3 separate regions of the Homo sapiens genome follow, and regions 2 and 3 are each linked to region 1. Evidence: fine-mapped expression QTL. A gene starts in region 1. Each other region holds a variant in brackets. All regions are shown on one strand. Distances are from middle to middle.

The links. PIP is the estimated chance that this variant, and not a neighbour inherited with it, causes the effect.
Region 2: its variant is fine-mapped to the expression of TSPAN9 in macrophages (Nedelec 2016, PIP 0.93).
Region 3: its variant is fine-mapped to the expression of TSPAN9 in testis (GTEx, PIP above 0.99).

The regions. Positions count from the first base shown.
Region 1 is chr12:3,072,190-3,081,987 of GRCh38, forward strand. It overlaps TSPAN9 (tetraspanin 9), which reads left to right and starts at 5,190. Exons shown (of 9, transcript NM_006675.5): 1 at 5,190-5,264. RefSeq lists an enhancer at 1,254-1,548 and silencers at 1,330-1,479, 4,696-4,745, 4,796-5,295.
Region 2 is chr12:3,122,200-3,131,997 of GRCh38, forward strand. The region is part of intron 2 of TSPAN9 (tetraspanin 9); the gene reads left to right. Among named protein-coding and RNA genes, the nearest start is that of TSPAN9-IT1, 23 kb to the right of the region's middle. The variant A/T (reference allele first, on the strand shown) is at 5,161.
Region 3 is chr12:3,274,347-3,284,144 of GRCh38, forward strand. It overlaps TSPAN9 (tetraspanin 9), which reads left to right. Exons shown (of 9, transcript NM_006675.5): 4 at 4,075-4,266; 5 at 4,646-4,720; 6 at 6,036-6,137; 7 at 6,852-6,983; 8 at 7,388-7,471; 9 at 8,699-9,798. The coding sequence ends at 8,770. Among named protein-coding and RNA genes, the nearest start is that of LINC02827, 21 kb to the right of the region's middle. The variant T/C (reference allele first, on the strand shown) is at 4,185.

The DNA of each region.
Region 1 (9,798 bases):
TTTTTTTTTTTTTGTGAGACGGAGTCTTGCTCTGTCACCCAGGCTGGAGTGCAGTGGTGCGATCTCTGCTCACTGCAACCTCCGCCTCCCAGGTTCAAGTAAGTCTCCTGCCTCAGCCTCCGAGTAGCTGGGATTACAGGCGTTCGCCACTACGCCTGGCTAACTTTTTTTTGTATTTTTAGCAGAGACACGGTTTCACCATGTTGGTCAGGCTAGTCTCAAACTCCTGACCTCAGGTGATCCGCCCACCTCGGCCTCCTAAAGTGCTGAGATTACAGGTATGAGCCATCGTGCCCAGGCGACTTTTTTTTTTTTTTTTGACAGAGTCTCGCTCTGTCGCCCAGGCTGGAGGGCAGTGGCATGATCTTGGCCCACTGCAACCCCCCGCTCCCGGGTTCAAGCGATTCTCCTGCCTCAGCCTCCCAAGTAGCTGGGATTACAGGCGCCCGCCACCACGGCCAGCTAATTTTTGTAATTTTAGTAGAGACAGGGTTTCACCACGTTGGCCAGGCTAATCTGGAACTCCTGACCTCAGGTGAGCCACCCGCCTCGGCCTTCCAAAGTGCTGGGATTACAGGCGTGAGCCACCACGCCAGGCCCAGGCGATTTTTATAGATGTGGAAACTACTATTCTGTACTGGTAGACATGAGAGTGGAACTCTTTTTTTTTAGACGAAGTCTCGTCCTGTTGCCCAGGCTGGAGTGCAGTGGCACGATCTTGGCTCACTGCAACCTCCGCCTCCCAGGTTCAAGTGATTCTCCTGTCTCAGCCTCCCGAGTAGCTGGGATTACAGGCCCGGCTAATTTTTGTATTTTTAGTGGAGACGGGGTTTCACCATGTTGGCCAGGCTGGTCTCAAACTCCTAACCTCAGGGGATTCACCCACCTCAGCCTCCCGAAGTGCTGGGATTATAGGCATAAGCCACTGCGCCTGGCCGAGAGTGGAACTCTTCATACATTCTACCTCTCACTCTACCCTCAGGTCATCTCCATGTCAGAGGGGTGGTGGAAGTCTCTTCAGGTGGAAGATTCCTCCGAAGTAACTTTGTGCATTACACTCTGGATGGAGCAGTAGTTAACTGTGCAGGCCCTCCAGCCAGACAACCTGGGGTTATATCCTAGCTTAGTCAATTGCTGGTGAAATGACCTTGGAGAAATTACTTAACCTGTCTCAGCCTCAGTTTCCTCATCTGTAAAAATGTCGGGATGGTGATGCTACTACCTACCTCATGGTGTTGTTGTGAGGATCAGTGGGTTAGAACATGTAAAGTACTTAGAACTGTGCCTGGCACATAAACAGTACATGTTAGCTGTTAGCTGCTTTGCAAGTCACTTGAAACCTATGGCCGAATGTGAAGTGTTGGCGGAACCCCGCTCCGGCAGCGTGCACTTTCGCCACTAGGTGTCGCAATTCAGCAGGCACAGTCCTGAAGCTTGACTTGGGGTGGTTGGCTGGGACTTTAATTTTAGCCTATTGTCATTTTTGATTTGATTTGGTGATTTCAAGGGGATAAACTGACATGCTATCCTTTGAAGTCCCTGGGGATCCAGAAATTCCAGCAGAGTTGCTGACATCCAGGCCTGGAAGGAGCTGTTTGGAGTCCTGCCTTTGTTCACAGTTAAAATGGCATATAATTTATCATCCACGCCAGGATATTTCGAGAGTGAAAGGGGACTTAGGAACTATGCCAGGACAAGAGGAGTAAGTAGGATGTGCCCCCGAAACCTGGATACAGTCACCCTACCTATATCTAACCTCAGCATTTTTCAGAATCTCCTCCAGAAGGGAAATGCAATGACATTTCCTCAGAAGCCTGGTATGATAAGCAGTGACTTCATGCGTTTGTAAGTCCCTTCCCCAAGAGGGTGGTGCGTCATTGTCAGGTTTACTTGCGTTTAGTCCTCAGTGGACACTATCAGTGTGTCTGCTTCACAGACCACTAGTCACCTTTGTGTCCTTTATGCTGAATAATCCCATCTCCTCTACAGCTTTTCTTCAGAGCTTCCTTCCAACTGTCAGCCCCTCAGAGGCACTGAGGCATTCACCTCTGAATGTGGTGAAGGAGAGTGAGCAGTGAAGCCATTTTCTGGGCTATTGCTGAGGGATTTCTTCTAAGATTTCATCTATCTCTAAGACTTCAGAATTCCATTATTTCAGATTTGCTCTAATTAATTAATTAATTTGAGACAGAGTCTCACTCTGTCACCCAGGCTGGAGAGCAGTGGTATAATCATGGTTCACTGCAGCCTTGACCTCCTGGGCTCAAGCAATCCTCTCACCTCAGCCTCCCGTACAGGCATGTGCCACCACGCCCATGCACACCTGGCTAATTTTTGTATTTTTAGTAGAGATGGGGTTTTGCCATGTTGGCCAGGCTGGTCTCGAACTCCTGGGCTTGAGTGATCCACCTGCCTTGGCCTCCCAAAGTGCTGGGATGACAGGTGTGAGCCACTGTGCTCCGCCTATCTTTTTTTAAAGGGCAGGAGGACTTTGGGAGGCCAAGGTGGGAGGATTGCTTGAGGCCAGGAGTTCAAAACTAGCTTGAGCAACATAGTGAGGCCTCTGTCTCTACAAAACAAAACGAAAACGAAAACAAAAACAAAAACAAAACAAACAAAAACCCCAATTAGCTGGGTATGGTGGCATGCACGTGTGGTCCCAGCTACTTAGGAGTCTGAGGTTGGAGGATCCTTGAGTCCAGGAGTTGGAGGCTGCAGTGAGCCATGATGGCACCACTGCCCTCCAGCCTGGGTGGCAGAACAAGTCCCTGTCTCAAAAACAACAAAACAAAACAAAAACCAAAAAGGGCAGGAGGAAGCTAGCATTTGTAGAGCAGTCACCACACATCACATGTTGTGCTTTTACTCCATCATCTTGGTCAGCCCATCAACCCTGTGGAATTGGTTTTTTTTTTTTTTTTTTTTTGAGACAGTCTCGCTCTGTCGACCAGGCTGGAGTGCAGTGGCACGATCTTGGCTCACTGCAACCTCCGTCTCCCAGGCTCAAGCAATTCTCCTGCCTCAGCCCTCCGAGTAGCTGGGATTACAGGCATGTGCCACCACACCCGGCTAATTTTTGTATTTTTAGTGGAGACGGGGTTTCACCATGTTGGCCAGGCTGGTCTCAAACTCCTGATCTCAGGTAATCCACCCGCCTCGGCCTCCCTAAGTACTGGGATTACAGGTGTGAGCCACCATGCCCATCCCCATAATTGGTATTCTTATGCCCCATTCCACAGGTGAGAAAACAGGCCTGAAGAGGTCCCAGCCGATAAAAGCAGAGCCAGGATTCAGACAGGTGTGTCTGGCTCCCAAGCCCTGCGGCTACTCCCTCACCAGGCTGCGTCCAATGGTCTGCCAGTGAGTTGGCTTGCTGGCAGACAATCCTAGTATATCTCTTTCCCTGTCTGAGACCCAGTTTCCTTTTCTGGGTACATGTACCCAACTCTGCCGCAGTGACTGGAGAGATTGGGGCTGGTGGGGGTTCCTTGGGAAGACTTTGTTATAGGGGCATTGAACAGGGCTTTGGATGAAGCAAAATGTAGAAGGAGAATATTTTCCTTGTGGGGAAAGGGAGATCAGAAGGAAATGGGTTATGGGTTTAGTCTAATAGACAAAAACAAGGTTGCATGTGTGTGACGGAAAGGGGCCCAGAAGATGAGTGGAAACTTCCAGTCTAATTAGCAGAAAGCAAAAGTGACCCTAGTGATTATAGCCAGGTTTTAAAAACTTGTCCCCAGTCAAGCTTAGTGCAATGGTAGGGCACGTGGGAAGCACAGCATACAGTTTCTTTAAAATTTAAAAAAATTTCACTTTTAAAGACAGGGTCTCCCTCTACTGCCCAGGCTGGAGTACAGTGGCATGATCCTAGTTTACTGCAGCCTCCAACGCCTGAGCCTCAGCCTCCGGAGCAGCTGGGACTACAGGGGTGTGCCACCACACCCGGTTAATTAAAACATTTTTTTTTTGAGATGGGGTTTCCCTATGTTGCCCAGGCTGTTCTTGAATTCCTGAGTTCCTGAGCTCAAGCAATCCTTCCACCTGGGCCCCCCAAAGTCCTGGGATTACACGCGTGAGCCACCACACCTGGCCTAGAAGACATTTTTGATGACAGTAATGATGAGAAGAGATGGCGTTTTAGTGCTCTTTGGAAACAAGTTTAGGCCTTCTAGCTTTAAGAATCCGGGCCTATAATCCCAGCACTTTGGGAGGCAGAGGCAGGAGGATGGCTTGAGCCCGGGAGTTTGAGACCAGCTTGGGCCCAGGGAGACCACCGTCTGTACAAAAAAAATCAAAAACTTCGCCGGACGTGGTGGTGCGCGCCTACAGTCCCAACTACTCTGGAGGCTGAGGCGGGATCACTTGAGCCCGGGAAGTCGAGGCTGCAGTGAGCCGTGATCGCACCACTGCACTCCTGCCTGGGCAACAGAGTGAGTCCTTGTCTCAAGAAAAAACAAAACAAAACAAAAAGCAAAAAACACATAAAATCCAGGCCTGAAAAAGCGCCCGGGCCAGACATGCCTAGCTGGAGTTTCTCCTGCCTTAGCGCACCCCTCAGGCACACGGTGCCCTGTAGTCGCCCTTGGAGGCCGCCAGCTCCTGGGGAGGCATGGCCCTTTCTGCGGGAGGTGTCTCAGGCAGGCTCCAACACACACCCGCGCTGTCAGCATCTCGCACAGTCCGCCCGAAACACCAGGGAAGGGGTTCGTAGGTGTGGGGGTGGGGTGGCGAGGCCAGGCAGCCTGGCGCGAGGGAGAGAGCCGAGGCCTGGGCCAGGAAGGCCCTTGGGTGCCGTGTGGGCGCAGAGCCCAGGAGAGCGCACTGCCAGGCCCGGACCTCCCCGCCCCTACCCCGGGAAGAGGCCCGTTCGCCGCAGGGGGAAGGCGGGATCATAGCACCTCGGAGGAGCGGCCGGTCCGGGCATGCGGGCGGCGGGGCGGGGAGGGAGGCTTCCGGAACCCCGAGAGAGCACCCGTGCCTCGCGGGCCCCGTGCCCCGTCCCCGGGCTCCCCTTCCTCTAACGCAGGGGACCCAGCCCGGGGCAGTGCCGGGCACTGGCGCTGGCGCCCCGCTCAGCCCTGCGATCCTTCTCCGCCCCGCCCCTCCCCGCTCCGCCCCGCCCCTCCCCGCTCCGCCCCCGGGCCGCCCCGCCCCGCAGGCTCGCCATTCCCGGGCAGGCCCCGCCCCCTGTTTCCGCTGGCGGCGGCGGCGGCGGCGGTGCCGGAGCGCGAGCAGAGCGGAGACCCCCAGGTCCTGCGGGCGCGGTGAGTGCGGCCCGGGCGGCGGGCGGCGAGGCGGGTCTCGAGAGCGTGCGGAGTCGCGCGGCCTTGAGCCGGCGCCGGGCGGGCTGGGCACCCCCAGGCCGAGACCCGAGAAGGGGGAGCGGCCGGGGGCGCCCACGGGAGGCAGTGTGGGCAGGGCGGCGGTGGGACGAGAGGACGAGGAACAGAGTAGGCGCCGTGCGGGAAGCGGGCCGGGAAGGGGAGGGTGGGTGCGGGGCCCGGGCACCGAGCGAAGTGGGGTCCTCCAGGGGATGGCTCCGAGGAAGACCGTTTCAGAAAGGGAGTAACCCGGGGCCGGCAAGGGTTTCCGACTGTGTGACCCCGTGCACCGCTTGGGACAGTCCATACAAGGACCCCAGAGAGGGCCAGGGGGCCTTCGGGCAGGGCTGGGATATGGCCTGCAGCCCCCCGGCACCCGCGACCGCTCCCTGGGCCACTGCTGGAAGATCAGCACTCCGAGTGACAGGACTCTGGCACATCCCGAAGTTGGAGATCTAGCCCATCTGTGCATTCAAGTTTGGGACTTCAAAAAACTTTCTTGTGGTTTTTAAAAAAAGATCCAAACAAGAAACCGGCTTGTTGTTGTAAGAGCAATATTTGTACTTGTACATCTTGGAACTGGAGTCTTGGATCTCCTCCCTCTTTGAAAAATATACGAGTCACTGCTTCATCTTCCCCCAAATGCCTGTTTTGTCTGGGGAAGCTTGGGCTAGTATGGGATCCCCTGAGCTACCTTTTTCTCGCATCACCAAAACGGGGGGTAAGAAGGCAGGGGCTTACCTGCCTTACCTGGTAACTCTTAGTTCAGAGACCCAGTCTCTCATTATGTGCGCGTGCCCTTCTGACCTGCAGCTGTCCTTTTCCCTGGGGTGACTCAGGTATTTCCTCCTCCAGGAAGCTTTCCTGGACTAGTGGAGAAAACTGAAGACTCATGCGAGGATCCCTATATATACCTGCCAGCTCCCTTCTCTTTACTGAAAATAGCCACAGAGAATGTTGAATATATGCTTTGCTATAGAGATACGCAGCCAGCTTGCCATCATAAGTAATGGGGAGGGGAGGAGAGGGATTATGGATAATTTCAAACAATAGCCTGGACAAATCATTTATATTTAGCTAAGGAATGCAGCCAGAGAGGCAGACAATTACACCGGCTTCCTACCCTCGGCTTGGTCCTGGCATGGCTGATGCAGCTGGGCTGTGGGTTGGAGGGAGAGGATTGGGGTAGATAAAACTTGAAGTGTAATTCAGTTCTACTCTCACTCACTGAAGACGCCCTGTGTGCAAGTCCCTGAACAGGTGAGAGTAGGATTTTTTTTTTTTTGGTCTGGTTTAATCAGATTTTAATATTCTGGCAGAGCTTTTTAAACCTATGAACAGATATTTAATATTAATAACAATAACTAGTGTTGATAAAGTAATTTATAGTTGGCCAAGTTTTTTCTATGCACGTTACATTAGCTGTATATAATTTTATTTAATTCATACGTAATCTTGTGAAATTTGTTACTTTTTTTTTTTTTTTTGAGACAGAGTCTCACTCTGTTGCCCAGGCTGGAGTGCAGTGGCAGGATCTCAGCTCACTGCAACCCCCGCGTCCCAGGTTCAAGCCATTCTCCTGCCTCAGCCTCCCGAGTAGCTGGGATTACAGGCGCGTGCCGCCACGCCTTCTAATTTTTGTATTTTTAGTAGAGATGAGGTTTTGCCATGTTGACCAGGCTGGTCTTGAACTCCTGACCTCAAGTGATCCACCTGCCTTGGCCTCCCACAGTGCTGGGATTATAGGCGTGAGCCACCGCATTGGCTGAAGTTTGTTACTTTTAATTGCCTTCTTATAGGTTAAGAAAATGATACTCAGAGAGAATAAGTATCTTATCTAAGGTCACAACACTCATTAAGTGAAAGAAGCAAAACTTGAACCCTGGCTTCTGACCTTCCTGCCTTGTGCCATCTATTCTGCCATCTGCCTCTCTGCCCTTCTTCTATTTTATTTATTTATTTTTTTCTGAGACAGACTTTTGCTTTTGTTGCCCAGGCTGGAGTGCGATGGCACTATCTCGGCTCACTGCAACCTCTGCCTACTGGGTTCAAGTGATTCTCCTGCCTCAACCTCCCAAGTAACTGGGATTACAGGTGCCCGCCACCACACCTGGCTAATTTTTGTATTTTTAGTAGAGATGGAGTTTCGCCATGTTGGCCAGACTGGTCTCAAACTCCTGACCTCAGGTGATCCGCCTGCCTTGGCCTCCCAAAGTGCTGGGATTACAGGCATGAACCACCGTACTTAGCCCCTTCTTCTATTTTTTTTTTTTTTTTTTAGAGACAGGGTCTTGCTTTGTTGCCTGGGCTGGAGCACAGGGACACAAGCAGCTCACTGCAGCCTCCAACTCCTGGGCTCAAGTGATCCTCCCACCTTAGCCTCCCGAGTAGCTGGGACTATAGGTACAGGCCCCATGCTCAGATAATTAAAAAAATTTTTTTTTTTTTTTTGGTAGAGACAGGGTTGTGCTATGTTGCCCAGGCTGGTCTCTGGTCTTGAACTCCTGGCCTCAAGCAATTCTCCTACCTTGGCCTCCCAAAGTGTTGGGATTACAGGCGTGAGCCACCACGCCCAGCCCCTTTCCTCTATGTTGAGCCTTGTCTTCACCTGGCACCACCTATTTGTGCAACCTTGGGCAATTTACCTCCTCTTTCCAACTCTCTGTTTTGGTGGTATATTGGATTAGAAATATTCTAGAGTCTCTTCCAGCATCAGATAATTAACAGTGTAAGATATTGGCAGCCACTCAATCAATTAGGAAGTGTGCTTTATATAAAAAATTCTAAAATTGTGGTTAAAAAAACACTGAATGTAAAATCTTTTTTTTGTTGTTGTTGTTTTTGAGATGGAGTCTCACTCTGTCGCCCAGGCTGGAGTGCAGTGGCATAATCACAGCTCACTGCAACCTCCGCCTCCCGGGTTCAAGCAATTCTCTGCCTCAGCCTCCCCAGTAGCTGGGACTACAGGCGCCCGCCATCACCCTCGGCTAAATTTTGTATTTTTTTTAGTAGAGACGGGGTTTCACCATGTTGGCCAGGCTGGTCTTGAACTCCTGACCTCATGATCCACCCTCCTCGGCCCCAAAAAGTGCTGGGATTACAAGCATGAGCCACCGCGCCTGGCAAATGTAAAATCTTAAGTGTACATTTTAACCATTCTTAAATGTACAGTTCAGTAGCATTAAGTCTATTTACATTGTTGTGCGACAGCTCCAGAAATTACCTTGTAAAACTGAAGCTTTAATATTCTTGAAACAACTGTTTCCCCCTCCTCCCAGCCTCTGGCAGCCACTATTCTGTCTGTTTAGTGTGCTTTATTAAGCTCCTGCTGTGTGCTTAGTAAATGCTGACCTTGAGGAATTAATCGGGAGAGTTGTGGAGAAGCAGCCCAGCTTAGGTGGGAAGCCCTTGAACCTGGGGTGGCTGGAGGGAGTGCCCCCTTTTCGCAGGCCTGTAACCCCAGGGCCAGCCAGCACTGTTAAGTGAATGAGTGAGTGGGTTGGGACTTGGGCGGATGCCTTCACCTCCTTTAGTCTCAGCTCCTTGCTTGCAAAATGAGGATAACAATACCAAGTACTCAGGGTGTTGGGAAGGAGCCATGAGCTGATGTATGTGAGGCACGTAGCTCAGGGCCTCATATACAGCAGGTGTGCAGTAAACGGTGGCTGTTATTTATAACCTCGTGGAGGAGACTGGACTAAGATGCTTGGAACAAGAGAGGACAAGACTTCTTTTCTCTGCCGTGAGGGCCCAGCCTGCAGTGGTTGTCATCCTCACTGACTAAGAGGGAGTGGATCTAATCCCGGTGCATTCGCCTGGCATTCAGCATCCTGCCTGTCTAGCCTTATCGCCACTCTCCTCCCTCCTGGAACCCTTGGTTCTAGCCAGACTTATCTCCCAAGCATGCTTTGCGCGTTCCTTCTTGGCCCCTTAGTTCATCCTCTTCCACCTTCCTGGTTGGTTCTTCCATCCCTCTCCTCTTTCAAGACCTTTCTCATGTCTGAGCTCCTCTCAAGACCCTGGCATCCCATCCCAAATGAACCTCTTTTTCCTGGGAACCCCGGTGGCATTTTCTGTCTTCATTTTGCTCCTGGCCTTTATATACTTCCTTGGGTGGTTCTCTAGTGAACTCCACAAACAGTGTATGTGTCACATGTATAAGAGTCTGTGCTGGGCTGGATGCGGTGCCTCACATCTGTAATCCCAGTATTTTGGGAAGCTGATGTGGGAGGATCACTTGAGCCCAGGGATTTGAGACCACCCTGGGCAACATAGTGAGGCCTCTGTATCTAAAAAATTGTGTGTGTGTGTGTGTGTGTGTGTGTCTGTGTGTGTATATATATGCCAGGTGTGGTGGTACACACCTGTGGACCTATGGTCCCAGCTGGAGGTGGAAGGATCGCTTGAGTTCAGGAGTTCGAGGCTTCAGTGAGCCATGATTGTGTCACTGCACTCCAGGCTGAGTAACAGAGCGAGA
Region 2 (9,798 bases), 50 kb after region 1:
GGTGGGTGCCTGTAGTCCTAGCTACTCAGGAGGCTGAGGCAGGAGAATGGCGTGAACCCGGGAGGTGGAGCTTGCAGTGAGCCTGCACTCCAGCCTGGGCGACAGAGTGAGACTCTATCTCAAAAAAAAAAAGGAGATAGAGTCTTGCTCTGTCACCCAGGCTGGTGTGCAGTAGCACAATCATAGCTCACTGCAGCGTTGATCGGCTGAGTAGCTAGGACTTCAGGCACACACCACCATGCTTGGCAAATTAAAATTTTTTTTGTTTGTATGTTGTCCAGGCTGGTCTCAAACTGGTCTCCTTCTGTCTTGGCCTCCTAAAGTGCTGGGATTACAGGTGTGAGATACCACACCTGGCCCTGAGTTATTTCTAAATCCTAGCAGGGATTTTGAATCTTTTGTCTGAGCCTAGGAGACCATAGATAAGGAAGTTGGCAAGAACCCCTCTTAACAGAGAGGTTTGAGTCCCCGCATCTGTCTGAATGTGCTCCTGCAGGGAGGTGGCGTCCACTTTTGGATGTTGCTCATGTTTTAGTCCAGAGAAAAACTGTCCTCTTGCTACACAGTATGTCCTTTCTGAATTAATTAAATGTCATTGTTTTTTCTCTACCACTTGTTTTCCTACACCTTGGTTTCTATTTACTGGCAGGTTGAAAGCAGGTGACCCCGCCTCCTTGCCCCTAGGAGGGCTGCCAAAATGCCAAACAGAGAGCTTGCGTTTTGCCCCAGGCACTTGGAGGCAGGAAACAGGGATGTCTGTTTGGACAGTGGATGCTTCAGGGTTGGTCAGGGGTCCCTGGGGGAGAGGCAGGCAGGATGCTAGGCCTCCCAAACAGGGAGGCGGCCCCACAGGGAGCCCTGGTGGAGCTTGAGGCTTCCTGCATTTAGTGTTGGTCTGTCCAGCTGTTTCCTCCTGATAGAGTGGCTGGACAATGCCACAGTGACTCAACTCCAGCCCCGTCGACGAACAACAGGAGATTTGTCCAGGGTTAGCTCGGGAGTGGCGTCTGCATCCCTCACCTGCATCCAAGCTGCTAGTTGGGAGGAACCTGTTGCTCCTTGAACCGCTTCCCTGCTTACTCTTGGTGCCCTAGAGCCCTGTCCCAGTTGGATTGATTCAGGCTGTTTCTTTTTGATTTCCCTGTAGCTTGTCCTTAACCCTTCTTTGTGCACAGCTGACCTAGAGCTTCTGTGGCTCTGTGCTGACCAGCTGCCCGCCTGCCGTCCCAAGCCTGGCATTGCCAGACCTCCCTTGCCCTTGGCCTGAGGCTCAGTGGGTTTGGCACAGTCCCCGAAGGTTCTGAGTCTCTCTCCAGGCATTCAGGGCCTGGGCGAGCTTCAGATGAGAGAGACAGCTGTATGATTCATTAATCTCCTCCAGTGTGTGGAGGATTAAACAATTTTTTGGTGGGTTTATTATTATGTATTTTTTTTTTTTGGGAAAAATTATTACTTATTGAGTATTTTCTAAGGCTCCTGTCATGGTTACTAAGAGCTTTGCATGCATTACCTACCTTAATCCTTGCAGGCACTCTCTGGGAGAGGGATGGTTACTCCCATTTTACAGATGAGTCTGAAGTCCAAGAGGCTAGGGAGCTTGCCCAAGGTCTCAGATCCTTCCCACTTCGTATCCTGTGACACATGAGTTAGGGAGGGATGAGGATGTGCGGAAGAGTTTAAAAAATAGTTTGAGAACTGTTGATGAAGGATGAGAGGTTTAAAAGGAGCTGTGCAGGGAGGAGGCAGAGGTGAGCCGGGCTTGGTCCTTGCACTCCTGGAGTGCGGGAAGCAGGCAGGCCACCAGCTGCCTCTGATGTAAGATACAATGTGGTTGGTGCTAGCAGTGGAGCTGCCAGGGTAGTTTGGAAGCACATTTTCAGCTGGTATATGAGCAACTAGTAGAAGACACTTCAAAACAGAAGTGAGAAATTCCTGGCGCACAGAACGGATTTATCTGTCAGCATGACTTAAACTGTCCATGTAGAAAATACTGAGATATAGTCCCATTTATGTCTAGAGTTGCAAAAATGCAACATTGCTTAGAATTATTTTTAGTGCAATTATTTGGAAGTTTATATCAAAGGCCTTAGAAACATTCATTCATAATTCTGTTCTTTGGAGTTTATACCAAAGTAGTTATATTTTTTCATTGCAGCACTATTTATAGTAGCTAAAAATTGGAAGCATACTGAATGTCTAACAATAGAAAATTAGTTATATAAATTTTGATACATTCTTTTTTTTTTTTGGATGGAGTTTTGCTCTTGTTGCCCAGGCTGGAGTGCAATGGCTTGATCTCGTGGGTTCAAGCAATTCTCCTGCCTCAGCCTCCTGAGTAGCTGGGATTACAGGCATGCACAACCAACACGCGTGGCTAATTTTGGATTTTTAGTAGAGACAGGGTTTCTCTATGTTGATCAGGCTTATCTTGAACTCCCAACCTCAGGTGATCCGCCTGCCTCGACCTCCCAAAGTGCTGGGATTACAGGTGTGAGCCACCGCGCCCAGCCTGATGGACCACTGTGTGGGCTTTTAAAAATTATGTCTTCAAGAATTATATATAATGACTCAAAATAGGCCAGGTGTGGTGGCTCACATCTGTAATCCCAGCATTTTGGGAGGCTGAGGCAGGAGGATCGCTTGAGCCCAGGAGTTCGAGACCAGCCTAGGCAACATAGTGAGACCCCTGTCTCTACAAAAAAATTTTTAATAAATTAGTCAGGTATAGGGGTGTGCCTCTGTGGTTCCAGCTACTCAGGAGGCTGAGGTGGGAGGATTACTCAAGCCTGGGAGGTGGAGGCTGCAGTGAGCTATGATCATGCCATTGTGCTTTAGCCTGGGTGACAGAGTGAGACCCTGTCTCTGAAAAAACAAAACAAAATAACATTAATGAAAAAATGTCAAGCAAATATTGTAAGATATAACACTACAAATCCTAATTTTTTTTAAAAAAGAAGAAAGGTTAGAGGAAATACACCAAAAATGCTAATGGTAGTTCGTGATTATTAGTGATTTTTTTTTTTTTATGTTATGTACTTGCTAACATTTCTCTAGTGAACCACAACAACAAAAACATCAGAAGTGCTTTGGTGTCTCAGAGGATTGCAGAGTGTTTTGCTGCGTGCTCAGCACAGCACCTTTCATTGCAAAACAGGCTCCAGCACTTTCCAGAACAGGGCTTTAAGTGTACTTGGGAGATGAGGCCTCTGCATTGGAGTTCCTTCTTCCTCTCCTCTAACACATTCTTCCCCCCGCAGTTTTCTCCCTTAATTGGATGTAAATTTACAACTAAATAATTATTTTTAAAAAATAGGTACTGTTCTTATTGGCTGTTTTTCCGAATACTCTGATGAGAGAGACATTTCATATTTTTCACTCTATAAGAAGACCCTAATTTAAGGTTCTTTCTTCTCATGGAATTTAATTGATTTTTTTTCTCTGTGGTTCAGATGATGTTTGTCAGATAGAAGAATTTGCGACTCCTGCCTTAAATGGCCTTTGAAAGCCCAATGTAAAATAGTGCCTTGTTGTTGTGGCCTGCTGGGTGACACCAGGGCAGCCTGGTGTCACCACAGAGGAATGGTTCTGTGGCTGACAATACGTTTGAAACTGACCCTCAAGTGAGCCCAGAGAACACTTGTGATCATAGCCCAAGAACAGCCTTTTTGTTTGTGTTTCATGGATTATGAACGAGGACTCAGCACATCGCCTGGCATTTGAGGGCTCAAAACCTGTTGTTTGGATGAATGCTGGCCTTTGTGGCAATATTCCCTCCCAACAATAGAGACTTCTGTTGCGTTTGTTGTGTTCAAGTGTCTAGTGAAAATGCTCTCCTATAGTGGTTGAGAAAGTAAGTTTTGGATGAGAGATTCAGATCCTGGCTCACTAGTGTAGTGACTGTGAACACTTCTCTTAACCTTTTGCAGCTTCACTTTCCTCCTCTGTCAAATGCATAAGACCTCACAGGGATGTTGTGAGGGTTAAGGGAGAGTACTTACAAAATGCTTAATAAGGGATCGATAACTATACAGTCACGTGTTGCTTCACGACTGGGCTGTGTTCTGGGAAATGCACTGTTAGGTGATTTTGTTGTTGCGTGAACATCAGAGTGCACTTACACAAACCTGGATGGTATGGCCTACGGCACACCTAGGCTCTAGGGAAGAGCCTTTTGCTCCTAGGCTACAAACTTGTACAGCATGCTTCTGTGCTGAATACTGTAGGCAATTCTAACACAAGAGTGTTTGTGTGTCTATACGCTGGAGCTGCCAGAGTGATTTGGATATGTGTACCTTTACCGCACCTTTTCTATGTGTACACTAAAAATACAGTATAAAAGATTTAAAGTGGTACCCCTGTATTAGGCTGTTCTTGCACTGCTATAAAGAAATACCTGAGACTGGGTAATTTATAAGGACAGAGATTTGGGCCAGGCCTGGGGGCTCACACCTGTAATCCCAACACTTTGGGAGGCGGAGGCAGGAGGATCCCTTGAGCCCAGGAAATTGAGACTAGCCTGGGCAACATAGTGAGACCCTGTCTCTACAAAAACTACCTGTAGCCCTAACTACTTGGGAGGCTGAAGTGGGAGGATTGCTTGAGTGTAGGAGGTGGAGGAGGCTGCAATGAGCTGGGATTGCACCACTGCACTCCAGCTTGGGCACCTGAGTGAGACCCTGTCTCAAACAAACAAACAAAACAACAACAAAAAAGATTTAATTGACTCATGGTTCTGCAGGTGATACAGGAAGCAAAAAAAATTCATGGAGTCTCGCTGTGTTGCCCAGGCTGGACTCGAATTCCTGGATCAAGTGATCCTTCTACCTTTGCCTCCCAAGTAGCTGGGACTACAGGCTTGGTAGCATGTCCAACTTGTGCTAGACTACACTAAATTTATAAATTTATATAAATATTTTTCTGGCCAGGTGTGGAGGCTCACGACTATAATCCCAGCACTTTGGGAGGCTGAGGCAGGAGGATCACTTGAGCCCAGGAGTTGGAGACCAGCCTGGGCAACATAGTGAGACCTCTACATCTTGTCCCGCTGGAAGGTCTTCAGGGGCAATACATAACGGAGCTGTCGTCTCCTGTGACAACAGTGCCTTCTGGATACCTTGTAAAGGACCTGCTTGAGGCCGTTTTACTTAACTTTAAAGAAAA[A/T]TTTTTTTTTTTTTGAGACGGAGTCTTGCACTCTTGCCCAGGCTGGAGTGCAGGGGCGCAATCTCGGCTCACTGCAAGCTCCGTCTCCTGGGTTCACGCCATTCTCCTGCCTCAGCCTCCCGAGCAGCTGGGACTACAGGCGCCTGCCACGATGCCCGGCTAATTTTTTGTATTTTTAGTAGAGATGGGGTTTCACCGTGTTAGCCAGGGTGGTCTTGATCTCCTGACCTTGTGATCCACCTGCCTCGGCCTCCCAAAGTGCTGGGATTACAGGTGTGAGCCACCGCACCCAGCCACTTTAAAGAAAATTAATTAAAGGCATATACTCTAAAATAATGGTAAAAGTATAGTATAGCAAATACATAAACCAGTAACATAGTTGTTTATTATTCTTAAGTATTATGTACTGTCCATAATTGTATGTGCTGTGGTAGACATATTTTTAAAAAATTCATGGGGTCTTGCTATGTTGCCCAGGTTAGACTCGAACTCCTGGGCTCAAGTGATCCTTCCACCTCCACCTTCGTATTAGCTGGGACTACAGGCTTGGTGGCATGCCCACCTTGTGGTAGACATTTTTACACGACTGGCAGTGCAGTGGGCTTGTTTACATCAGCATCACCACACACACGTCAAGACTGTGTGTTGTTGGATTACGACACCTATGATGTCACTGGGCGGTAGGAATTTTTCAGCTCCGTTGTAATCTTAGGGGACCACTGTCGTATGTGTGGTCCGTCATTGGCTGAAGCATTGTTATGTGGTGCATGATGGTACTACCGATATTACAATATTGTTATTTTTGGCAGAGAGGTTTTTCCCATTCTTGTCTCTGTTCTCAAGTTGTTTGGGGTGGCAGACTGAGCCAGGGATGTGGTTCAGTGTCCATTATCTCATAGATCCAGGGCCCTGACCACTTTTTCTCCAGCTCCACCTGTAGGATGCCCTCCTTTTGGGCCTGCAAACACAAAATGGCTAATCTCACTGACTTTCTTGGATATTCAAGCTCAGTGGGAAATGAACTTTCAAAACACAGAAGGCGTGATTTCAGAGTGTCTTCAAGGGGGCCTTACACACAAAAGGAGGCTGGGCGTGGTGGTGCAGCTGTAGTCCCAGCTACCCAGGAAGCCAAGGCAGGAGGATTGCTTGAGCCCAGAAGTTCAAGACCAGCCTGGGCAACATAGTGAGACCCTGTCTCAACCCCTGCCCCAACAAAAGCCCCACGAAAGGCTGAATTACCCATAGCCCCCCAAGAAATACCTTCCTGGCTTTATGGTGAGTCAGGCACCCCTGCACTCTGCACGAGGCTGCCTGGGTAACCACTCTGTTCCTCACTAAAAGGAAAGACTAAACACTTTGAGATTCAGCACCTCATCACATCACCATCATTATATTTTGGAATTTTTTATTGTGAAATATACGCAACATAAAATTGACCATTTCAACCATTTTTAACTGACATTAAGTACATATACATTATTGTGCAATCATCACACTATCTCTTTTCACAACTTTTTCATCATCCCACACTGACACTGTGCACCCATTAGATGATAACTTCCCATTCTCCCCCTACTTCCAGCCCCTGGTTATCATCATCCATTTTCTGGCTATGAATTGGATTATTCCAGGTACCTCATGTAAGTGGAATCATGCAATATTGAACCTTTCGTGACTGGCTTACTTCACTTAGCATTGTACCCTCAAGGTTCATCCATGCTGTAGCCTGTGTCAGATTTCCTCCCTTTTTATGGCTGAGTAATATTCCATTGTGTGTATATGCCACATTTTTTTGCCCTTTTACCCAGTGATGGACATTTGGGTGTTTCTACCTTTTGGCTATTGTGCAGCATCGTATTTTAAAATCGAGTGCCCACTCTTCTCCTCTCCAGTCACTCCAGTGGCTCCCCACTGCCTGCACACCCACCCACAGGACTTTGCACAACCGAAATGGATGCACGTGTTAGTAATGTGACATGTGTTTTCCGAGGTAGTTTTTCTATGCATTGGATCCGTCTATCCATCCCCTTTATGAAGCTGTAAATGCTCAAAGGTTAGGAGCTAAGATTAATAGTTCCTTCTACTACCTCCTGAGAGTCTGTTTCAGGAAGTGGTAAAGGATGTTGGTTAGGAGTGTGGGTTGTGAGGTCAGACCACATGGGTTTGCATCCTAATTCCACCACACACAAGCTCGTCATCACATGTATCCCTTAACTCTTTGGCACTCAATTTGTCCACTTATGAAATGGTGATGTTGGTGGTAACTACCTTGTAGGGCTGTTAAGAACATTAAATGAGATAATCCATGTATAGGACTTGGCCTAGTGTCTGATACATTGTAAGCCCTTGAATGTTAGCTTAAGCAAAAATTAAGAGCTCAGCTTCCTTTCAGCATTTGCCTTTTTCATCTTCATAATTCCCTTGCTGGGCAGCTCAAGGGTAGGATGAACGGTTCCTGCCGTGTGGAGTGGCGTCCCTGGGGCCAGCTGTCCCTCGGGGAAGCAGTGACGGGAGCCTGGCAGAGGTAGAACCCTGTTTATTGTTCATCCCTGACCAACCCCTCCATGCCCTCTGTGCATTCAGATATCAGGTGTACTTGGAGGTGCCCAGGCCCCTGGGTCTTCTTTGATCCCTCCCTGCATCCTCTTTCTTGCGTGGATCACCGATGTGTGGGACAAACTTGGCAACTTGGGAAGGTCTCTGGGCGGCTGTACCGCCTCTTTGGCCCTCTCCAGGATAGTGCTGTTGGGGTGGCCAGAGGGTCGCTTCCCTTCTACTTCCGCTTCCCCCGGTGGCCAGCCCTGCCCCACCAGCCTGGGAAACCTGATTCCTCCTGCCCTCAGTGCCAGCGCACTGGCAGGATCTGGCTGGGCATTTGGCAGCCGCTTGAAGCAGCCTGCGGTTTCGCCCTAAAGCTGATCGAGCTGGTGAAAACGGAAGTTCCCCATTTTTCCCCCTCTATTTAACAACATTTCCCCAAATGTTTACTTGATCCTCTCATGTTTTCTTGTTCGCGTCAGCTACTAGCTTTCCGCTTGCTGGCCACAGCAAGGCAGGGAGAGGTTTGCTGCTGCTTGGGGCTGATTTTCTGCTCTGGAAAGGCATCTCCAGGTGTGACGGACAGCAGAGGGTGGGAGCTGGGCAGATGGTGTCTGGAGGCAACACCCCAAAGTCAGGTGACTGCATCCAGGTGATAGGGCTTCTCGGGACTGGCCTGGGGCAGGGTGGCAGAGTGGGCCCTTCCTAACTGCGTGACCTCGGGCAAGCTCCTGAACCTCTTTCGGCTTCTGCTGCCTCACCAGTGAGATGGGGATAATAATAGTACCGGCCCACAGAGATGTGCAGAGTCAGTGAGATAACCTACACAAAACGCTTAGCAGAGTGTCTGGCACACACGGCCGTGCTCTAAAAATGTGAGTTACTTCTATTTTTACCGGCAAACTTTATTTTTGCTGTTTTCCAGCCTTCTGTTTCTTTGCACATTTTCTTTTTTTGTGGCGACCTTGATTCCTTTAGGATCCCAGTGCTCTTGGATCACTCCCTTCTTGCTTCTAGCAAAGCCCACTCTCGGGAAGGGGTCTTACGTTGTAGCCGCATCGGATTTCAAGGGCAGAACCTTCAAGGTCGTTGGGGCCAGTGCCCGTGTGGTATTTGTTTTTGCTGAGCGGCTCTTTGCTGTGCTGCATCTCCTCGCCTCCTTTGACGGGGTACACACGCTCTACCTGCTGAGACAGTCTCCTCCATCTTTGTCATTTTCTCCACTTTTGGGGAAAAAAAAAAAGAAACCGGATGTTTATGGAGCCCTTTACGTGCCAGGAGCTGCTGGGCACAGTCATCTCATTTCATTGTCCCAGCCGGCCTTCGAGGTTGGTGGTGTTAATTGCAGTTTTTACCCAGGCACCGCGTGGTTGAGTAAATAGCCAGAGGTCACATGCAAGCAAGCGACAGTGGGACTTGGTTGAGCCTGGACATGCCGAAGCTGCGGCCCACGTTCTCTGCGCTGATGGTGGCGTACAGCAGCAGCCAGTTGCACAGGTGCTCCCATTAGGATCTCAGCCCCTGCACTTACTGGATGCCTGTGGGCCAGTTACCTACCTTCTCCAGCCTCATTTTCTTCACCCGAAACTGGGGGCAGTCCCATCTACCTCCTAGGGCTGTTGTGGGTATGAAGTGAGAAAATCCTCTAATGCTGATGAAAGCTTCTGGCCTGACCGTGGCAGGTGTGCAGGGAATGCTGGCTGTGATGTGTGCTGTGATGCTGGAGCTTGGCTTCCGGGAGGTTCCATACTCTGGGAACTTGCAGGACAGGTCCTGTCCTTGGACCCTCGTCGGATAGGCCCTCAGGTGTTTGTTACCAGGTATTGTGTCCTTCCCAAAGTCCTCGCAATTTTTTAAAAACATTTTTTTTCTTGTGGTAAAATACATACAAAATATATCATTATAACCATTTTAAAGTGTGTAATTCGATGGCATTTACTACGTTCACCGTGTTTGTAAAACCATCACCACTACTTGCTTCCATGGCTTCTTCATCACCCTGACTATGAATCCTGCACCCCTTACCTGTGACCCCCCAGGCCTCTCACCACTGGCAACCACTGATCTGCTTTCTATCTGTGGATTTGCCTCTCCTGGACA
Region 3 (9,798 bases), 200 kb after region 1:
AAGGAAATTGGGCCTCCGAGAGCTAAAGAATCTTAAGGTCACACTAGGGAGCAGCATGATGAGAGGCATTTTAGGAAAAGAATCAGGCAGCTCTATGCAGGCTGGGCTGGAAACTAGAGGCCAGGGGCAGGGAGGGCAGTGGGGGCCGTGATCTGGACATGGGACCTGTGGCGAAGGCCCAGTGTTGGTGCCTGTCACCTGTCAGTCGGAGGTCCCCTGGGAGCAGGTAGTGAAGGCTTCTGCACCAAATGCCAGAAACCAAGGTTTTGTCCCAGCCCAGCAGTGTGACTGGGGACTTCCTTGTCCCCCCGCTTAGCTTCCTGGAAAATCGAGGCGTGACCTTTGTGTTTTCTTCTTGCCGGGAGGCTCTGTTAGTGTTGGGCCATCAGAAGATGGGAGCAGAGAGCTCATCTCGGCAGGAGCCCCTTGAGGATGGGAGCGTGGCAGTGGGGATGTGCGTGGCACCCGCTGTACTGCACAGGCCTCCTCACTGGGCAGACGTGCACCATGCGTGGAGTTGTGCCAGGCGGGAGCTGTGATGGAGGCAGGAACAGGTTTGAGGGCTTGGAGAGGAAGCCTTCCAGTCCAGACTGCGCCCCCGTAGGGTAGGCCGCAGATCTTTCCTGGGGGCCTGGAGGACTTTGGACAGGAAATGGGAAAGGAAGCAGATTTGGGGACAGGGCACCAGCTGTGTTCCCTGAGAGGTAGAAGGCTCCCAGGTGGGTCTGGCAAGACCAAATCAAAGGATGTGGAGTGTGAAGTCAGAGAACCAGTTTGAAGAGAGGTGACCAGGTCCTGGAGTTTCTGACCTAAGAGGTTTTCCTAGGTAGAGGTACCTGAGCATCCCAGCACTTATCCCAGGAGGGAAGTGGAGAGAGGGCTCGGAAGGGGCCCCCCGCTGCAGGTACACCCACAGTGGGAAACCGCTTCAGGAGAAGGCTGTGCTTTGAGAACTTTTCCAGGCCCGAGAAGGGTCCGGGCTCTGAGCTCTGGGGTCCTGCGTGTCTCCAGCTGCAGCGTGTGGGGGCGCCCTGCAGCTCCCCTGCAGCGAGTACCTGCGGCAGTGGGGTTTCCGCTTACTCATTCCAGGGTCTGGCTTTTAGAGCCATAAATCTTCAGCATGAAGATCATAAATTCTCCATGGTATGATTAATGAAAGAAAAATTGAGACGGCAGCATAGAAACTGACCAGATTGAAGAAAAGTCAGAGTGACTATTTGGATGAAAGTTTCAGCCATCGCTGGCGAACCCAGAGCTTCTGAACCAGCCTGGAGCGCCACCTAGTGGCCGTAGGCGGGGCTAGCCCCGTTCCCTGGCGAAGCTTTGTGATGGCCCAGTTGGGCGATGCTGTGGGTCTCAGTGTGCCCATTCTTTGGGAGCCCTGACGTGGTTCCATGTGGGGCTGCGCCAGGGGACAGGAGGCACAGGCCCACTCTCCACAGTGTGAAGGACCCAGGCAGCTGCTGGACGTAAATCATTCGGACCCCCCTGCAGCTCCTTGCACTGTCTCTTGGTTAGTAATACGTGGCGGTGTCTGTTCCTACCTTTTTCTTCATGCACACCTTTCTGGTTCCCCATTTATCAAAATCCTATTCATTCTTCAAAGCCCAGCAAGGCCTGTCAATGCCACCTTCAAAACATCTCAAATTGGACCATTTCTCACCGCTCCTCCGTAGCCTCCTGGTATGAGTCGTCCCCAGCTCTCAAGCTGGTCTGGCTCCTGGGAAGAAAGAGAGGCTCGCAATTAGGCAGGGTAGGGATGCCCACGGGAAGGTGAGGGGAGGGGACAGACGCCTCCCTGAGGAAGGGCATCTCCTTCTTATTCCTCCACAAACCCAAGCCTAATCACAGCAGCCTCCCAGTTGCTCTCCTGGCCTCCCTCGGGCCCTCCCGCGGTCGCTTCTCCAAACAGCAGCCAGAGTGATCTGCTGAAAACCTCAGTGAGATCATGTCACTCTCCAGCTCTGGGACCTTCCCGTCACACTGAGGACACTTGCACGTTTCCTTTACCTGCGAGGTCCCAGCTGGCCTGGCCCCCGGCCACCCCGCCTGCTTTGTCTCCTACCATGTGTCACCTCACTCACTGTTGTAGCACACGGCCAGCGTGCTCCTCCTTGGCTGGCCAGGCTCCTTCCCACTCCGGGGCTTTTGCACCTGCTGTTCTCTCTGTCTGGAACGTTCTTCCCCCAGATAGTTATGTTGCTCCCTCCCCCTGTTTATTTGGGTTTTTGCTTAAACACCACCTCTTCCAAGACACCTTCGCTGCCCACACCCTCCCCAGTTATTTTCTGGCTCTTTACATTGCCTTATTTTTCTTCGTGGCGCATGTCAGCAACTGCAGTTACGTCATTTGTTGCTTACATAAGGTCAGTGTCTCCTGTAAGAATCTACTCTTCGTGAAGGCAGGGTCTTTGCCAGTGAGGTGTACCACTGTCTCCCCAGCTTGGAGAACAGGGCCTGGCACTGAATACGCAGGTGTTCACTTGGGTTTGTGGAGGAATAAGCGAAGGAGATGCCCTTCCTCAGGGAGGCGTCTGTCCCCTCCCCTCACCTTCCCATGGGCATCCCTACCCTGCCTAATTGCGGGTTGCCCTGTCTCAGCCCTGAGCCTCTGTTTCTTCCCAGGAACCAGAGCAGCTTGAGAGCAGGGGCTGGGCTGATTCCTGGAGTCAGCATAGTCTGCACAGGCCCTGGCACAGAACAGCTGCCCGGGAAGTGCCTTTCCAGCAAGCAGTGCCCGGAGCTGGCCACCCACTTCACGTAGCTTATTCCAATCTAATTCTCACAGCAGTCCAATAGGAAGGGGATGATATTCTCACTCTGCATACGAGAGGTTTGCAAGCTCACACCACCAGGATAAGCTGGAGCCGGGAGTCCTGTTTGGGTCTGTGACTCCCAAGCCCTTACCACCTGCACTTTCACCCGGCATAGAATGTTCTCGTCCTCCATCTGCCCCTAGTCCACCCACCCTTTAGGGACTGCCTCCTTCAACTGGCTTCCATGACTGCGACAGTGATTGCCTCCTCTGAGCGCCCGTAGCGTTGACTGGGCACCAGTCCATCCCACCTGGGAGTGGTAGATTTTGCACTTTGATTGCTCCCATCCAGCCAGAACAGAGGCCCCTGGAAAACAGGTCTTTAAAGTGGTTGTAGCTTTTCTGGCATGGCACACTGCATGCTGTAGGCACTCAGTAAATACTGTTTCACTGATTGATTGGCTCCTCAGACTCAGCACACTTCCCATGAGCTGGCGGAGGGAGTCGGGGAGTGCCAGCTATATCGAGCATAAAATAAGACAGATGTGGAGATTTGCAGCCGGTGAAATGGAAGCTTCCCCAGGTGGAGCTGGTGGCGCCGGCAGCCCCAGGGGTGCTGTTGGGGAGAGTTGCTTTTCGGTTTGGGGGCCGATCATGCCAGAGGCCAGCTTATTGGATGGGTGGTGAAGGCAGCCGTGGACTCCCACGTCCCGCACACTGGCCAGGCCCCCAGCCAGCCGATGACTGCCTCCTTTCTCCATCTGTGGGAAATTGTTCTTCAGACTCCAGTGGACAAATGGCCCTTCGGGTCAGAGTAACAGGACACAGTCGCTGGAAGTTCTGGCTCCAAGAAACCCGACTCCGAGGGTCCCTTCCCACCTCCAGAGATGAAGTCTTTCTTGCTTTTCCTGACCCCAGTTCTCCCCTCTCACCAGGCCTCCGTCTTGGACACTGGGGCCTCTTCTCTATCATGCAGAGTAACCTAACCACTCACATGTGTCCAGTACCTTCCACGTATTTGTTACGCACTTTTGCCTCTGTGTGGTTTAATCCATCCTCAGAATGACCTGGGAGGCTCTTGAAACTGGCACAGTCTCCGTTGTCACATGGGGAGACTGAGGCACAGAGAGGCTAGGGGACTGTCTGGGTCACACAGCCGACATGCTTCGGGTCTGCAGCCCAACGGTAGTCCCGTTCTCACCTTGTCGGTTCTCACTTTGTCTGTGTCTCAGAGCATGGGGTGGGGACCTGCACTGTTCCCAGGTCCATGGACGAATGTGAGAGCAGCGCCAGGCTAATGGGCTTTCCTTCCTTTCCAGCTCTGTGGCTGTGGGCTGCTGGGAGTGGGCATCTGGCTCTCCGTGTCCCAAGGCAACTTTGCCACCTTCTCCCCCAGCTTCCCTTCGTTGTCTGCAGCCAACCTGGTCAT[T/C]GCCATAGGCACCATTGTCATGGTGACGGGCTTCCTCGGCTGCCTGGGGGCCATCAAGGAAAACAAGTGCCTCCTCCTCAGCGTAAGTTCTGTCCAAATCCCCAGCCCCTCCAACTCCTGATCTCCTTGCACTTGGACCCCTGGGACAGGCAAGACCTGGAATATTAGCCACCTGGGTGTCCAACCTGAGCCCAGGGAAACTGCTTCTAGAACGTTCTAGGCTTGACCACACCCCTCCTCCTCATGGTTGGTTATGCCTACCCCTGGTTGTCCCTCCCACTCCCTGATTAGTCAGCTCCTTTATGTCTCTGTCCTAGCTATCTGGGTTTCCTCAGGAGGAGCTGGCTTCTCCCAGACCTGGGAAGCCCCACCTAGGCGCCGCCTGTCCCTGCCTTCCACACCCTCCTTGTCCTCAGCCCTGCCCATTACCACCTACCCATGCCTGGCCCTTTCCTTTCCAGTTTTTCATCGTCCTGTTGGTCATCCTCCTAGCAGAGCTGATCTTACTCATCCTCTTCTTTGTCTACATGGACAAGGTAAGCCTTACCAGATGGGAGGGGGCATATGGAATGTCACTGCCCTTAGAGTTGGGCCAAGCAGGCCAGGGTCCCTTCCCTGGCCAGAGGAAGAGTGCTGGCAAGCAGCACCTGTGCAGAAAGGAACATGGAACCAAGGGTTGGGAAAGCTACCAAGGAAAGAGCAGATGGAAGGTTTTGATGGGGGCAGCATGGGGCAGGCAAATTTGGAGGATGGGAGAGTTGACTTTGTATAGTTCCAGGAAGTGGAATCCTCTGCATGACCAGAGATGGCAGTGGGCTGCCTCTGGCGCTAGTGAGCTCCCTCTCACTGGAAGGAATTAAGCTACTTGGAGAAGGGATTCAGACCTCATCAGGTGGTTGGGCTGGGTGATTTGAGAGCAAACCATGAAAAACAAGGAGGAACTCTCTGGGCGACGCTGGCTGAGCAGGACTGAGGCACAGGGAAGCTCTGTTTCCTGCACTAGAGCCCTTGAGGACGGGCGCTGCTCCTGGGTTCAGGAGGATGGTGGGTGACCCCCTGTAACCTCGCCAGGCTGGGCAGTTCGCAGTCAAGAGCGAGGTTGGCCGGGATTTCAGTCTCTTGGGGCGTGGCAGGCCCTTTGGTACCATGCACTCCAGAACTGTGTAAGGAGCAGTTCTTGAAATAGCTGCCTGAGCCACACTGAAAGTTAGAGACATCGTTAGGATGAGAAAGAATAATCTTTTAGTTTTGCACTCGTGAAAAGGAAGAAAGAACAATGTTGAGAGATTTCTCTGTGCCAGCCCTGTTCTTGGCCCTTTTATGAGAATTGTTTCCCTTAATTCTAACAACAGCGCCATGAGTAGATGCTGCTGTTCAACATCGGGTAGAACAGCGGTGAGGGAGGTGAAGGTCACATGACCTGTCTTCCTCCCTCTAGTTCCCAGGGTGTGTTTTGAGAGGGGCAGTCTGTGGGGAAGCTGTGTAGTGGGGGGCGGGGGTGGCAGAGTGGCCTGTGTGTGTGGCTGGTCCTGGGATGGGGGAGTGGAGGCACGTGGTGTGTTTTTTTGCCTCTGGGTGTTACAGCCCTGGCCCTGAGTTTAGCTCTGCCGGGAGGCGGTGGGTGCACCAGGGCCTGCTGTATTCTGAAACTGGGAGTGTGTGCCTAACCCCGCACCTCTGTTGGGCCAGCAGAGGCCCCCACCCCAGTGGGCAGGGCCTTCCAGACCAGCTGCCTTCCCTGCCTTCCTCACTCCTCATCTGTCACCCACCATCCTGGGTGACCTGAGGTGGGCTGGAGAGACGAGCTGCGTCCTGGTTCCAACCGTCTCACTGTGTCCCTCCGCCTGGCAGGTGAACGAGAACGCCAAGAAGGACCTGAAGGAAGGCCTGCTGCTGTACCACACCGAGAACAACGTGGGGCTGAAGAACGCCTGGAACATCATCCAGGCTGAGGTGCGGGCTGGGCCGCCCTGGTGGGGCCAGGCAGGGAGGAGGGGTGGCGGCCGGTACTTCTAGCTGCCTTCCCCGGTGACCTGGCCGGGCACCTGTGCTTTCTGGATTTTAGCCGGGAGTGGAGTGGTACCCACGGGGGCATTTGCCTGAACTGCTGAGTCAGATGTGATACAGCAAGGTACAGCCAGGGAGGGATGAGGATACAGGAGGGGCAGGCCTGAGAGAGCTGTGGCTGAGCTTTGGGATGAATGACTGAATTTATTTTAGCAACAGATTTGCCTCCATGATGGGGCTTGGCTTAGGTGAGGAGGCCCTGGCTCTAGGAGGAGAACAAGTCCATAGTCCCAGATGCTCCCATTTTAAGCCCTGGGGAGGGGCCGGCAGGGGGTTGGGTGGCAGTCAGCTTGGGACGGTTTACAGAAAGAGCAGAGGTGCTGGTGGGCAAGCACAGGGCTGAGCCAAGGGGCCCAGCCCGAGGGGTGGGCTGCATTGCCCTCTCCCGCTCTGGTCTCCAGGAAGGAGTGCTCACTCACTTCTCCAGTGGGCCCGGCTGAAGCCCAAAGAAGGGACAAGAAGCAAGCCCTTTGTCTCCTCCCTTAACTGCAGGGTGGCCACTTTTGCGGGGACTGGGGTTGGCCTGGGCAGGGGAAGGCCCTGGGGAGGAAGGGGCGGGCCATGGCATGTCTGACTGCCCCTTCCATTCCTGCTGGCCAGATGCGATGCTGTGGTGTCACTGACTACACAGACTGGTACCCAGTGCTGGGGGAGAACACGGTTCCCGACCGCTGCTGCATGGAGAACTCCCAGGGCTGCGGGCGCAACGCCACCACGCCTTTGTGGAGAACGGTGAGGCTGGGGATGGACCGCTTGGGTCCAAGAGCCCGTGTGTGGATGCCCCGGCACGGGGAGCCCTATAGGGGAGGCTGGGCCCGGGACACTAAGAGGTTGGCTGAATGTGGCGGTGGGGGGCTCACAAAAATAAAGCCAAAAGACAGGTGGAAAATGGGGGGTGGGGCTGGACCCACAGTTGGGAGAGTCAGAGGGCGAGGGGTTGAATGGGGTCTGAGGCTCTGCAGCTGGCCTTGCGGGTGGGGCGGAGGCTGCGCCAAGGGATGGGGACAGGGCTGAGGCCAGGGAGGGCTGGGAGGTAAGAGCGAGGACGAGGTGGAAGGAGAGAGTGAGCTGGGGGCTGGGCTGCAGGGAGCGCATGCTTGGGCTGGGACCCTAACCTCGTGGGCCTCGCTCCCCAGGGCTGCTATGAAAAGGTGAAGATGTGGTTCGATGACAATAAGCACGTGCTGGGCACGGTGGGGATGTGCATCCTCATCATGCAGGTAAGAGGGGCGTCCCCAGCAGCCTCACCCACCCTGCTGGCCTCAGCCTCAGAGGGAAGGAAGCACAGAGAAGTGAAAGCAGTGTTGGTACACGGCGGAGGGTCTGGAATTCATCACAGCTATTCAAGCTTAGCAGCTGTGCCTGCCACCGTTTCCGCAGAGCTCTGATATGAGAGCACGTGTCTACTCAGCACTGAGAGTGGTGCTCAGGGCTGCCTGTGGCCAGGCCCAGGCTGGGATATTGAAGCTGGAGTCAACCCCCGTGGGTTCCCCCAGTTCTGCCCAAACCTTGAGCTCAGAGAGCCATGCAAGACACACACGGTGTCCCCCGGTCACCATCTTTACAGCCTGTGCACATGGCACACTCTCTGTGGTGACCGTGAGACCACACCGGGCTTCCTTCTGCCTCCTGCACTCCTCTGGGTCCCCGGCTCCTTTGAGGATTCAGGAGGGAAGGGGCACAAACGAGTAGTGACGTGGTCCTGAGCACACATCACTGGAAAGACAGCCCTGCTGCTGCCAAGACATCGCACCATGTGTTCCACAAGCAGACAAGAGAGGCTTGACAGGAGTCCTTTATTTTTCTTTTTTTAAGAGACAGGGTCTCACTTTGTTGCTCAGGCTGGAGTGCGGTGGCGCCGTCATAGCTCGCTGCAGCCACAAACTCCTGGGCTCAAGCCATCGTCCCACTTCAGCCTCTCAAGTAGCTGGGACTACAGGCATATACACCACCATACCTGAATGATTTACAACTTTTTTCCAAAAACAGATGGAGTCTCCCTCTATTGCCCAGGCCGATCTCAAGCCATCCTCCCACCTTGGCCTCCTAAAGTGCCACCGTGCCCGGCTGGCCTGAGTCCTGAATGATCCCTGCCACCTCCCACTCCCCACCTTGGCTCCTGTGAGCCCCCACGTAGAGCCAGGTCCTCCGTGCATTCCGTGCCTGCAGCGCCCCTCTGAGTAGGCACACGTATGCATCCTGCAGAGGTTCGATGGCTTCTGGTCTAACAGCCCCACGAGGCTGAGCCAGAGTTCACCTGTGTGTGTCTCCAGGGTGACCTCTGTTCACGGTTTTCTTCATGTCTTCATTCCATAAGCATTTTCCTGGCACACCAGTGGCCATCCCCGCTTGCTCTAGGTGCCCTGTGACATCCCAAGCCTCTCGGGGCTGAGGTCAGGTCCAGGCTGCTGCAGCTCCTGCCTCAGGCCCCTCCCCGTGTCTTTCAGATCCTGGGCATGGCCTTCTCCATGACCCTCTTCCAGCACATCCACCGGACTGGTAAGAAGTACGACGCATGAGCGGGCTGGCCGGGAGTGCCCACCCCGCCCTGCTGCCCTGTGGAGGGAAGAGGATTGAGCTTTGTGTCACCTGCCTGCGCTCTCCAGATATGACCCCTGCACCCACCCCCCACAGCCTGCCCTACCCCACCTACCCTGCCTCAGCCTCGGACTTCTCAGTGGGTGGAGTGCCAGGGAGGAGGAGGCACACGGAGACCTGGGGCTCGGGGCCCCTGGATTCCTGCATCTGCATATGCGTATTTGCCAAAGACGACAGGGTGGGCTGGGGTGCGCTCCGGAGGAACCCCCGGCACTGATGGGCTTCTGCCCCTGCCCTTCCTCACACTGACACTTTGTCCCCACATGGGGTGGGGAGCAGAGTGCCCGCCCCGTGGAGATACCGCCCCAGCGGGGGCTGCGACATCCATGGCCACCATGGGGCACCTGGCGGGGCGGGGGTCTGCCGGCCTCTGGGCAAGGCCCCTGGAGCATCTCGCCCAGGCTTTTTATACCTTACAATGTAACTTTTTTATTTTATTTTACTCTATGATTATTCAGGAATATTATCTCTCAGATAAGTTTAGGGTTAGATTTCTGATTTGTAACTTTTTACTGTGTTGATTTCTTTAATGGTTTGACTTTTTTTCCCTGAGGGTGAGGGATGGGTGGGAAGAGAGGACATCTGTCCAGTCTCAATCAGGACAGACCACCGTGCGACACCCAGGAGGCTCTCGGATGGGGCGCGCCTGCGCCCTCAGAACGTGTGGGAAGGAGGGGGCGTGGACAGGACACGGGACCTTGCCAGGCCTGGTGTCTGAGGACAGGAGCCTGGGAGAGGCGGGTGGAGCGTGAAGCAGGCTGGAGGTGCCCCTGCACGGGAGGTGGCGTTTGCTAACCAATCGAGCTGGAAATGCCAGGGCAGGGGGGCCCCACGGTGCTGTGGCAGAGCTAGAGGGGTCCTTAGACTTTTCACTGATGAGCAGTTGTTGGTTTTTTCTTTCTCCCTTCCTCCCGCTCTCTGCTGGCACGCGAGGCTTCCCCTTCCACCC